Regions from separate parts of the Homo sapiens genome. Here regions 1 and 2 are each linked to region 3. A link means that fine-mapping ties the variant in region 3 to the expression of a gene that starts in the linked region. Tissue or cell type: whole blood. Region 3 holds a variant in brackets; each other region holds the start of a gene. All regions are shown on one strand. Distances are from middle to middle.

The links. PIP is the estimated chance that this variant, and not a neighbour inherited with it, causes the effect.
Region 1: GNB3 starts here. The variant in region 3 is fine-mapped to the expression of GNB3 in whole blood (INTERVAL, PIP above 0.99). The same link has a PIP of 0.9 or more in neutrophils.
Region 2: it holds the start of P3H3, and the variant in region 3 is fine-mapped to the expression of P3H3 in whole blood (TOPMed, PIP above 0.99). The same link has a PIP of 0.9 or more in neutrophils.

What each region holds. Positions count from the first base shown.
Region 1 is chr12:6,839,123-6,843,230 of GRCh38, reverse strand. GNB3 (G protein subunit beta 3) reads right to left here and starts at 2,306. Exons shown (of 10, transcript NM_002075.4): 1 at 2,198-2,306; 2 at 1,887-1,973; 3 at 1,607-1,645; 4 at 155-261; 5 at 1-57. The coding sequence starts at 1,943. P3H3 (prolyl 3-hydroxylase 3) reads right to left here. Exons shown (of 15, transcript NM_014262.5): 14 at 4,091-4,108; 15 at 3,384-3,934. The coding sequence ends at 3,770.
Region 2 is chr12:6,826,601-6,830,708 of GRCh38, reverse strand. P3H3 (prolyl 3-hydroxylase 3) reads right to left here and starts at 2,302. Exons shown (of 15, transcript NM_014262.5): 1 at 1,771-2,302; 2 at 698-850; 3 at 155-356; 4 at 1-70. The coding sequence starts at 2,268. GPR162 (G protein-coupled receptor 162) reads right to left here. Exons shown (of 5, transcript NM_019858.2): 5 at 3,288-4,056. The coding sequence ends at 3,505. RefSeq lists enhancers at 835-1,370, 1,620-1,679, 1,418-1,919, 3,077-3,645 and a silencer at 1,830-1,939.
Region 3 is chr12:6,782,864-6,787,112 of GRCh38, reverse strand. It overlaps the pseudogene RN7SL380P. Among named protein-coding and RNA genes, the nearest start is that of CD4, 4.5 kb to the left of the region's middle. RefSeq lists a silencer at 36-330. The variant G/C (reference allele first, on the strand shown) is at 2,115.

The DNA of each region.
Region 1 (4,108 bases), 56 kb before region 3:
GTGGTGTAGCTGTCCCACACGATCAGCTTCCCATCTTGCGAGGCACTTACCAGCAGCCTGGGGAGAGGGCATCCCATATCATGCAAGCCTCCCCTTCCCGCCTTCCTCACTCCCGCTCTCACCCTCCCATTCTCGGTTCCCCCCCAAGCCTCACTTAGAATCAGTGGCCCAGTGCATGGCGTAAATCTTGGCCAGGTGTCCCCTTAACGTCCGCCGCGTCCGCATCTGGACTCGTCCCACCACCTCTAGGCCAGACACCAGCTGCAGAGAGAGGGGCACTGAATATCAGGGTGAGCAGGTTACGTGCCCAGATGTCTGTCACTGCCACTGATCTATACAAGTTCCCGCTCTGTGCCAGGCTCTAGGTCAGGCCCCCAGCCTTAGAGAAATAAGTCTCTGCCCTGGAGTGTCTTAGACTGATGTGGGAAAGAGATGCATGCATGGCCAGAGGTGTGTTGCTTGTAAGTGTTTAACAAGCACCTCTCCAGTGTTGGTGAGGAAGGTGGGAAGGTGATTTCCACGATACGAATACTTGCACTTTGACCAGTTTCCAGCTGCCAATGTGAGGTCATTGGAAACAGATTTGGGAAGAGATGCACAGAGCTGGCTCTCCCAAGCCGAGAGGAGCCTGCTTGCACCCACCGCTGCAGCACGGCTAGCTTTTTAACTGGGTGCCTGGGGCATCACCATGACCCTGAACTGTACCTCCTGAAATCTGTGGTACTATGCCCCTTGAGCTCTAACCACATTTTAGACTTAGGCTGGGGGTCCAGAGTGAACAGACTTGATTTGCCATCACTTGCATTGCTATCTTTTTTTAAAAAGTTAAAAGCAATTTTTTTTATATTAAGAAGAGATCTCACTATGTTGCCCAGGCTGGTCTCAAACTCCTGAGCTCAAGTGATCCTTTCACGTCAGTCTCCCAAAGGGCTGGGATTACAGGCGTGAACCACTGCGCCCGGCCTGCTTTGTTATCTTGGGCAAGTTGCTTCACCTCCCTGAGTCTGTTTACTCAAGGTGTAAAATGAGGCTTATCATAGCACCTACCTTACAGAGATATCATGAAAATTCAATGAAATCAGGTATTTATGCAGCTTAGCCCAGTATCTGGCTCATAAAAAGTGTTCACTATTAACATATTTAATCCAATCTAAGATGCATCACTAAGAAAGAAAAGATGCTGTCAATTCTAATTGAAACAATGATCCATTGCTGAATGCACCTTGATTTCAGAGATGTCAAAATGTGAAGAAATGTGCATCTTAGAATTGACAAAATACAGCATAGAAAACTAGCAGCTAGAGTCTACAAGGGCTTTATAATTTACAAAGTACTATCGCTTCTTCATCTTCAAGGCCCTGGGAGGGGGCTGTGGTCACTCTTGTTCTACGGATGAGAATAGGAACCGTGTCCGCATCTTTCGCATCCAATATGGTGCCTGGCTCAGAGCAGGTCCCGCTAAAATGTTGGTCGAATGAATTAATTAATGGGTTTCCTCACTCCAAGGACGTGCTGTACTAATGCTCGGAGCAACGCGCTATTGCGGGTCGGGGAGCTCCCTTCCCCTCCCCCCATGCCCTGCCTTCCGGGGGACAGGGGGTCTTACCTCTGCCAGAGTAACGTCAGCACAGGCTTTCCTGGCATCCTGCAGGGAAAGCAGACATCAGGGGAGCAAGGGCGAGGTGGGGGTGGCAGGTGCATGGGCCTTCAGGGCAGGTTGGTCTTGGGGCTCTGGGGCTTGGGGGTCTCAAATATGCGAACCAAGTTTAGAAAGTCCCTGGTCACTTCTAGTCACTCAAGAGCAAACCCAGCCCCCTCCCCCTGGGCCACGCTCCTCATGTCCCCAGCTGTTTTCTGGGGCCCCAGGGGTAGGGCTCTGGAGTTACTGCAATCTGCTTCTTGAGCTGCTCCGCTTCCTGACGCAGTTGCTCCATCTCCCCCATGGCTGACAGGTCGAGGGGTCACTCTGGCTCCTGCCAGGAACATGGGGTCGGTGTTGAGGAACCCCCCACCAGGCTGTGCTTCTGCCCTTCGTGCCCACACCAGACTCCAAGACACAGGGAAACGACTGGGTGGCTGCACCCTCTCCCCAGCTAGGCCCTCCAAGTTTGAGGTCCTTTGCGTCCAGCCCCAGCCTGCCTGAGCCCTGCCTGCGCCCCAGCCCAGGAGAGCAGAGCCCAGGCCAGCTCCCTCTTACTTGGGCTCTGGCTGGACCTCGGCCGGGTTTCCAGCTCCGGTTCCTGGGAGCCTCCTTACTCCCTCAGCTGCGACGCCCGCGCCCGCCCGTCACCTGCCCAGGCTCTGCTGCCAGAGGAGCTGGCCTGGCCTGGCCTGGCCCCGACCGGCGGGGGGTTGGGGGGGCCTGACAGGGAAGGGTAGAGCCAACCACAACGTCAGGCAAATGAAATCAGCTGGCAGGGGTGGGGGGAAGGGGTGGGGGGAGGGAGGGAGGTGTACGGATTCCAGAGAGACTTGGGCCCAGCCGGGAGGAGGGTTGGGGGCAGGAGTGTGGGGCCATAGAGAGGGGCAGCCCCCACCACAAGCCCTGAGAGAGGAGGGGGTGAAGGGGTGCTTCCCTGGTCAGTCTCTGCAGGCAGAGATAAGAGCATCAGGCCCCACAGGATTAGAGCAAAGCTGTGAGGATTAAGGGTTGGGGTTTGGGAGGGGTGCAAAGGAGCAGACAACTACAGCTCCAGTGGCCCCCCTGGTCCCGGCCCCCATCCATGGTGATGATCTTGGCAGTCAGGGCCACTTAGCAACCAGGCCAGGAGGTGGGATATAAGGGTGATAGATGGCCCCATTGTCAGTACCTCAAACTGTGCTCCTCAGCTCAGGGTGGTGGGGAAGAGGGTTTGGTGAGTATGGGAGGGTACAGGCAGGAGCTGAGATTAGAAAGGACTGATCTGGATAATCCTTCTTCTCGACAAACCCCAACCAGCTGCCTCTGGGTCTGATCCTGTTGGGGGAGAAAGGTACAGGGGACCCACAGAGAAGGATGGACAGGTCTGCCCCTATTGTGGGCGGGCAACGGATTTCAAGTGGAGGGAAGGCCCGCACGCTGCTCCCAGGCTGGGGTCTGGCCCCCTCCTTGCCCTCTCGAGGCTGTGAAAGCAGGGGTCAGAGAGAAAGCAGGCGGCCCTAAGTCTCAGCAAAGCTCAGAGAGGGAAGACAGGGCTTACACTTGGAGGCCTAAGGAGCAGCTGCCAGGGGCTTGGGTCATTTGCATGAGGGGAGCAGGTGGCTGAGATTTCCCTGACAAATCACAGGCTCCAGGCGCCCCGCCTCTGGGAGGCCCAAAGACACCTGTCTCCTCCCAGGCCAGCCAGAGCCACCCCCACCTCCAGCCATCACAGAATCTGTGATACACTTGACTGGCCCCTGGCTGAGAGATCTTCACGACCTTTATTGCACAGACTGGGAGAGAGGAGCAGGGTTATACCTCCCAACCCCACCATCCTCTTCATTTAAAGCATCAGCCTCCTCCCCTGCCATTTCTGTTCAGGGAGGCACAGTGTTCCCCATCTGTCCAGGGCTGCAGGTCCGGCAGCGGGGCCCCGTCCCAGCTCCCCAGGCCTGGTGAGCTCCAGGCTAGCCTGTGCACTGTCCTCTGAGTCCAGGCCCTTGTAGGTCCCCAAGATGGTGGGGGTGCAGGGACAGAGAGCTTGCTGTTCTGCTCCTGATGTCACACAGGGGCTTCCTGTGTGTCCTGGCATCAAGATGGCCTTCCACAAGTCAAGTGGCCACATCCTCAAGGAGCTGGCTCAGCCACTCACAGCTCCTCCCGAACCCGAGGTGCCCTTCCAGTCTTGTCTTGGACCCTCTGGTGCCTGCGGCTAGGGGGCTCTGGGGAAGGGTCTTTGCTGGGCATTTCTTCCTCTTCCTCTTCCTCCTCCTCCTGTGACTCCTGCAGCAGTTCTTTGGCTTCTATCCACTCCTGGGGTTGGGGAGGAGAGTGTGGCCCATTCCCTGCACCCACCTTCCCTGGGTCAGCTCAGCCCCTGACCCTCACCGACTGTGAGCCTTCTCGGGGGCTCCTTGCCCACCCTTCACGCACCAGGAGAACCACATCCCTTCCTACCCCGCTCCTTACCTGCTCCCTGTGCTCAGG
Region 2 (4,108 bases), 44 kb before region 3:
CTGCGACCAGGGCGTGTGGCTGTTTCCCCCACACAGCGTTGCCGGCACTGCAGGACCTGAATCCAGTGTCCTGCAGAGGAAACCCATAAGCCATTCAGCTTGTTCATGCCCCTCCCTGGGCACCGACCCACCCCCTCACACACGGGACCCTTACCTGCAATGGCCTCATAGAGGCCCCCCTGGCTCGCAGCCCCATCCTCCTCTTCTTCAGCCCCCTGCTGCTCCTCAGGCCCCTCACAGTCAGCACGGCAGCTCTCCATCTGGGCCAGGCTCCCCTGAAGAGCCTCCTCTAGCCTGGGCAGTGCCAGTCCTGCCTCCTGGCGCCCCAGTAGCTCCAGGCCAGTGTCATAGGCTGCCTGTTGGGGAAGGGAGCAGTCAGTCACCTAAGATCCAGGGGTTGCCAAACTGGGAGGTAGAGAGGAGAGGGGTGTTGGTCTCATTTGGGGCAAGGACTCCATGTCCCTCTTCACCGTGGAGAAGAATAAGGGTGGGCCTCAGAATCATAATGTTAGAACATCAGATTTCAGTGATCATCCAGGAAGGAAACGAAGTCCTAGAGAAGGACTCCCAGCCAGGGTCGCTGAGGATCATTACCCCATCTGTATGCTCAAGCAGCACAACGCACAGTTTAGTGAGGCCTGTGTATCCAGCCAGGAAAAGGCTGGTGGCAAGACAGGGGTGGTGCTGGGATTCTCACCCAGTGTGGGGGCGTCTCCAGGTCCCGGAAGCTCTGGGGCCGAACTCCCGACATTCGTCTGTACTTAGCCATGTCCTCCCGCATCTGCAGGTGCATGGGGTTTGCTACAAAGAAGGTGTGTGCTGCCGCAGCTGCCAGATCCAGCTTCTTCAACTGAGGAGGCGAAGGGAGGAGGGCATCAGAGCCCTGGGACGGGGGGCAGACCTCTGCCCCCTGGCCAGCCTCCCCACCCTACCCCAGACACACACTCTGGGTGCCCCAGAGCCTCATGGAAGACTGGCCAATCAGAACCGCCCACCGCCCGAACTGCAGATCCCCTAGAGGCCAGAACGTTGGGACTCTCAGAAGGCTGGCACCGAGGGAAAGGGGATCTAAAGACGTCGGAGTTGGGTGGGACATGGGTCTCAGGACTTCAGGACCTCAATTTGGGAGACCAGGTGGAAGTGATGGCTTAAGTGAGGTGGGGAAGTGGGGGAGACCTCAGCGACCAGCAAAACCCGCAGGTCTCTAGGACCCTGAGCTGAGGTGAGTACAACCGGCGCCCCGCTTCCCCAGCCACGTAGGCAACTGCTGCGGTACCGGCGGCTGCGGCGTGCTGTCCCCTCCCCGCCCGCAGAGGTCTGGCCTCGGAGGACCCCAACCTTGCCTCCGTCTGCTCCTTCCTTTCCGAAGCTACCTCCTGCCCCAAGCGAAGGTTCACACTCACCACCACCCCCGACACACACACACACCCACGCACACTTCCCGTCCGAGAGCCGGTTTCGCCCCCACCGCCTCCGCTTCATTCCTAGGAAGAGGCGGCCCTGTCCCTCCATCTTCGATCTGCTCCCGTCCCACCTCACGACCTCCCCGCCCCATTCCCATTCTGCTCGCACTCCCCCTCGGCTGCTCCTCTGCGATCTCAAGAGGTCCTCGCGGTCGCTTAGCCAGCTCCTACGCAGAGGCCCGCGGTACGCTCCCCAGCCCCGTGCGGGGCCCGGGCAACAGCATTCCGCCTACTCCTGGGCAACGCAAAGTAGGACAGCGTCGTGGTGAGGGCTGGGACCCTCGGAGCTGCCCGGCCCGCTCCCCACCTGGTAATAGGCCCTCTGCAGGTAGTTGTAGGGCTCCCGACGGCGGAAGGCGTCCCGGAGCGCGCTCCCCACGCGAAGCCGCGCCGCGCCCCCGGGGCCCAGCCTCCGTGCTGCGCACTGGGTCAGGCAGTCTGCGCGGCGGAGCGCTGCACGGAGAAGCTGTCGCTCCCAGGACCCCTGCGTGGGTCCCGGCCCGGAGTCGGGCTCCGGGGCCCCGAGAAGCACGGCGGGGAGCGCGGCGCCCGGATCGGCCGCGCAGCTCGCCCCGCAATCCAGCCGCACCCGGCCCAGCGCCGCCTGGCTCCGCAGCGCCTCCCGCAGCAGCGCCACGGCCGGCGCCCAAGCCCCGGCCGCGTAGGCGCGCAGCCCGTCAGCGTAGAGCAAGTCGGGGGCCTGCGGGGGCGCCCCCGGGGACAGCTGGGTCAGGCCGGGGGGCTCAGGGGACCCCGGGGGAGGCAGCAGCAGCAGTAGCAGCAGCGGCCGGAGGAGCCGGAGCATGATGTCGGAGCCGCCGGCAGCCGAGGGGAAATGCGGGAGCCGAGAGGGAGGGAGAGGAAAGGGGGGAAGGGGAGGGAGGGGGAGGAAGGAGAGATGGAGAGGCGGAGGGAGAGGGAGAAATAATGAGGGAGGCCGAGAGAGAGAGAGAGAGAGAAGATGGGGCTGAGACCCGATGGTGGGAGAGGCCCATGTGAAAAGATGGAGAGAGAAGAGTGCTGAGTGGACAAAGCTGGTCTAGTGTGGAATAAGAGGGAGAAACTGGGAGGAGGAGGGCAAAAGGCGGGAACTGGAGCAGGCCTGGGCATCCATGAAGGATGACTTCAGCCCCAGCGGTGACTTCAGCCCCTGAGGTCTGGGGGTAACTACTGGGGCTGTGTTCCCTCCACACACACGCTTCTGGGTCCAGAAAAAGGAGTGTGGACGCCGATCCCCCCCTCGCCCCCCCCCACCCCCCCACACTCATCCACCCCTGCACTCCCACCCCCCCACACTCATCCACCCCTGCACTCCCACCCCCCCCACACACTCATCCACCCCTGCACTCCCCCACACACACACTCATCCACCCCTGCACTCCCACCCCCGCCCACACACACACTCATCCACCCCTGCACTCCTTTGGAGAAAGAGCTTTAAAATGCAGCAAGGAGGAGGTGTCCAGGCCCGGGACACTGCATCAGCCCCAAAACCTTTCCTGCCCATAAAGTGAGCCCCTGCATGGATTTGAGGTTAGAAGGAGAGTTGGGCACTGGGGCTGGAGCCACGCTCTAAAACCACCTCAACAAATCTGAACAGAGATCCTTCATACCCCAACCAACGAAGATGTGTGTCCTCAAGCCCCGCCCCCAGCAGGATATGCTCCTCCCAGCCTTCCCTGTGCGAGGCTGCCTGGTGGAGCATGTGATCATTTCTCCATGTGTCCTTCTGTGCCTCTGTCTGCTGCCCCTGCTCTGTCGTGTCCCCTGTGAGCCACTCCACCCTCCAAGCCCCTTTCCACCGCAGTACACTGGACACTGAGGTTTCCATGGCAACACTTCAGACTTTAATACATATTGCTAGGGGTGATGGAAGCTGAGTAGGGCATCTGGTCACTTGGATGGGAGAGAGCAGGGCCTTCTGAGCCCCAAATCTAGCGCCCGTCTCCCCAGAGTCTGGAGGCAGCTGCCCTACTCTCGGCCAGAATGAGGTGTTACTCACTCAGGCTTTCTCCTCTGAGTTCAGCAGGCCTGCTTGGGCTCACAGGGTCAGCTGGGGAAAGATGGGGTTGCCTGGGCCCCAGGATCCTCCCCAAGCCCTTGCACTTTCTTCACCCCCCGTCAGGGAGCAGCGTCTCCCTGCGCTTAGTCCCAAAGGAAGTCCAACGGCTCTGCTCTCAGGGGACCCAAGGGAGAGTCGGCGGGGTGAGAGGCCCAGTGGCCGGGGCCGACGAGGAGAGTGCCCTGGTGAGGCAGTCGGAGAAGGCAGAGGTGTCTCATCGATGAAGGTGGTGATCTCCTCCCGGAAGAAGCCAGGACCCCGTGGGGGTCCCCCACCTGACCCCAGAACCCCACTCTCCAAGAATTGGCGAAGGCTGGCCAGCCCCCCACCTTCAGCCTCTTCCTCGTCCTCCTCGTCCTCCAACCTGTGTCTTTGTCCCAGGTACTCAGGAGGACCCCCGAGGGCCCGGCTCTGGGCTGGGAGGACCCGGATGTCATCAGAGGATGACCACTTGTGCAGGAAGGAGCCTGGTTCCCGAGGGGTAGAGAAGATGTTTGTCTCATCATGGGACAGACGCCGGGATAGGGGGACCTGGGAAGAGGAGCGGGTAAGACCTGAAGGTGCTGCAGGGACAGAGGCAGAG
Region 3 (4,249 bases):
CCTCAAAGTGGGGAAAATGTATCCTCCTCAGGCCTTCTTCCTTCAGACTAGAAAGCAAACACCCTCCCTATTGTTCACAGCCAGTCTGCTTTTCTCATTTACATTACCTGGCAGGCTCTGGTAGGCATTGATGTTTTGAGCCCTGCTCCATTCATTCATGTACGTAGTTAAGCGTGTACCAGCCCAAGGCACTCTGCTAGGTAGCTGGGGATGTGATGTTGAAGAAGACAGATATGGTCACCACTCCAGCTTATGACATAGACACTAAACAACGAACAACTTCATTACAATTCGACAAGCGCTACAAAGGAAAAAGCACAAGGTGCTGGGAGATCTTATCACAAAAGAACCTTCTTTCAACTGGGAGAATTGTCTATCGGTAAGCACTGGGTTCTGCTACAAGCAAAAGAAAACCCAAAATAATAGAGGCTTCAACAAGATTGAAGTTATTTTTCACATGTAGGAAGTGTGGAGGTGGGTGGTGCAGAAGAGAGGGAGCAGCACGCCGTCCTCCAGGGCCAAGATTGGGGCTGTTTATATTTTGTTGCTCTACCATTCTCCTGCACAGGACTTCCTCCCCAGAGTCTCAGAGGATACTCAGGTTCCTCAGTTGAAATCAGTTTTCCTTGTGATAAGATCTCCCAGTCCCCTGTGCTTCTCCCTTCGTAGCAATTTTCCAGTTGCAATGAAGTTATTTGCTGCTTAGTGTCTAGCTCACAGGCCAGAGCGGTGACCGTGTCTGTCTTAGTTAGCACTATGTTCCCAGCACCCTCACAGATGCCTTGGCCCTGGAAGACCCTTAATGCTTGTTTAATATTTTCCTAATATATTAAATTTTATTGATATTAAATTTATTGCGGTAAAATACACGCAACATAAGATTTTCCATTTTAAGCTTTTTTTTTTTTTTTTTCCAAGACGGAGTCTTACTCTGTCCCCCAGGCTGGAGTGCAGTGGCACAATCTAGGTTCACTGCAACCTCCACCTCCTGGGTTCAAGCGATTCTCCAGCCTCAGCCTCCCGAGTAGCTGGGACTACAGGTGCCCGCCACCACGCCTGGCTAATTTTTGTATTTTTAGTAAAGACGGGGTTTCACCATGTTGGCCAGGCTGGTCTCGAATTCCTGACCTCAAGTGATCTGCTCACCTTGGCCTCCCAAAGTGTTGGGATTACAGGTGTGAGTCACCACACCCGGCCATTTTAGGCATTTTTTAATGTACTGCTCTGTGGGACTGAGTACACTCACATGGTTGTGTAACCATCTAGAAATTTTTCATCTTCCCCAAATGAAACTCTGTACCCATTAAATACTGACTCCTCATTCTAACTCCCTGCAACTCCTGGCTATTGAATAATATTTTTTTTTCTTTTTTCTTTTCTTTTTTTTTTGGAAACAGAGTCTTGCTCTGTCGCCGAGGCTCGAGTGCAGTGGTGTGATCTCGGCTCACTGCAACCTCCGCCTCCCAGGTTCAAGCGAATCTCCTGCCTCAGACTCCCGAGTATCTGGGATTACAGGCGTGCGCCACCAAGCCTGGCTAATTTTTGTATTTTTAGTACAGACAGGGTTTCACCATGTTGGCCAGGCTGGTCTCGAACTCCTGACCTCAAGTGATTCTCCTGCCTCTGCCTCCCAAAGTGCTGGGATTATAGGCGTGAGCCACTGCACCAGGCCAAATAATTTTTGAATGGATAAATAGAGAAGTATGGACAAGAGCAGGAGAGCAGGGCTACAAATGTAAATGCTTACAGGAGCCCCCTAGGTAGTGCAAATGAGAAAGGTACACTGGTGGTGACCAAAAGGGAAGGGTAGGGACTGGGGGAAACCAGAGAGTACTTGCCTCAGCTAGTTAAGGGCAGCCATTCCCTGCATAGCTGTCTGAGTTGACCGTAGAGGCTATACTGGCATGTGAGCCTAGAGTTGCCTGCTCTGCCAAAATTTCTAGAGAAGGTGAAAACCAGACATTTATGTAATACCTCCTGATTTTAATATTGGTAACAAATTTTTTCAACTTGTCGTGACACTGGGTAGAGCAAACAGAGCATTCCAAGGGCTGGCTCTAGCTTTGGGCCCACCGGTTTGCAGATTCCAGACCCGATGGACGGTGTGAGAACTT[G/C]CAGCTCTGTGAGTCTGTGGCCTGGAAGTCAACGGTCCTGAGAACCTGGCTCTCTCTCTGGGGTTTCCAAACAGGAAAAGAAAAAAGGAAGAGAGAGGGTGAGTTTATAGTAAACATTTGGCATTGTTGTGTGCTTTATGTGGTTGTATCTTTTATTTAATCCTCATGAGAGTGATAAGACATAGGTATTATTGTCCAGGCCATACAGATGAGGAAACTGAGGCTTGAAGAGTTTTTTGTTTTCTTAGACAAGGTCTCGTTCTGTCACCCAGGCTGCAGTGCAGTGGCACGGTCACAGCTCACTGCAGCCTCAACCTCCAGGGCTCAATCTATCCTCCCGCCTTAGCCTCTCAAGTAGCTGGAACTACAGGCATGTGCCACTGTACCCAGCTAAATTTTTTTTTCCCCTAGAGATGGGGTTTTGCTATGCTTCCCAGGCTGATCTCAAACTCCTAGGTTCAAGCAATCCACCCACCTCAGCCTCCCAAAGTGCTGGGATTACAGGCATGAGTCACACTGTGCCTAGCCGAAGAGTTTCAGTTGTCAAAGGTCTCAGAGCTAGTAACCACAGCTGGTGGAACCGGGATTTGAATTCACCCGCTTGGACCCCAGTTTCTGGGTGGTCCCCCTCATTGCACTGCCTCTCCTCTGCATTAAGAAGGTCCAGGACCAGGCATGGTGGCTCGTGCCTGTAATCCCAGCACTTTGGGAGGCCGAGGCGGGCGGATTGTGATGTCAGGAGATCCAGACCATCCCGGCTAACACGGTGAAACCCCATCTCTACTAAAAATACAAAAACAAAAACAAAAACAAACAAACCAAAAAAAGAAGGTCCAGGCGGGGCGTGGTGCCGAGTGCCTGTAGTCTCAGCTACTCAGGAGGCTGAAGCAAGAGGATGCCTTGAGCCCAGGAGTTCTGGGCTGTAGTGCACTATGCAGATCAGGTGTCTGCACTGAGTTCAGCTTCAGCGTGGTGACCTCCCGGGAGTGGGGAACCACCAGATTGCCTGAGGAGGGGTGAGCCAGCCCAGGCCGGACACACAATGGGTCACAATTTCCATGCTACCCATGCTAATCAGCAGTGGGATCGGGCCTGTAAATAGCCACTGCGCACCAGCCTGGGCAACATAACGAGAACCCACCTCTAAAAAAAAAATAAAAAATAAAAAAAGAAGAAGAAAGGCCAGGATGACAGCTAAGAGAAGTCTTCTCCCTTAGCAGTGGAGGGAGGTATGAGGCCCACTGCCTCACCTGGAGCTTCTGAGGCTCAGCAGTGCCATGGTCCTCACATCTCTAGAGTGGTTTTCCATTTTCCAAGCACTTTCACATTCATTTGTACATGCCAGACCTTTTTGGTAGGTGTTGCTGTTACTATCCTTACTTTACAGAAGAAGAAATGGAAGTCAAGCTGTCTGCCCCCATCACATGTCTGAAAGCATGGAACAGGGGGAGTTCCAGAGGCTATTTTTGCTGCATGTATCCTGCCTCTCTAGGCTGTAGAACGGGAGGAGGCCAAGCCAGGGGAAGGAGTGATGGGGAAGAGAGAGAAGCCGGTGTCAGAGGCTACAGACAGAGTGCTGGAGACTGGATGATCTGAGAGGCCTAGGGCAGCCAGGGTTGCAGGAAAGTTGAAAGCCCCAGGTGCAACTCTGCGGTGGCCTCCTTACCAGAAGTATCTTTGGCAGCACTGACGCCCTCTGCAAAGGGGGCTGGGGGCAGGGTTTGAGGATGGGGAGCAGGGGAGGGGTCTTTGGGGCTGTTCTCTGGGAAGCAAAGTCTAGGAGCATCGATGCCATCTCTACCCCATCCACATTTCCCCTGGCTCCAGGACCACTTTTTGCCACTCTCAGAGGGTGGTTCTGGGCCTCCCCTACCCCACGGGAAGTTTGAGTAGGCACGTTTCAGAGCTCAGCCCGGGCTCAGACAGCTGACACCTGCAGCCCCTTGGAGAAACTGTCAGCCACAGAGTGGAGCAGATAGAACCGACCCCACCCCAAAGCAATTCCCTTCAAAGGAAGAACCCCACCCTGGGGTGGGCCTGTGCGGGGGACCCTAAGCTCCTTGATCTCCTCCTTTGAAGGAGGGATAGCAGCAGGGGCTCAGGCCTGAACCCTAACATCTCTACCTGGTAGGGGA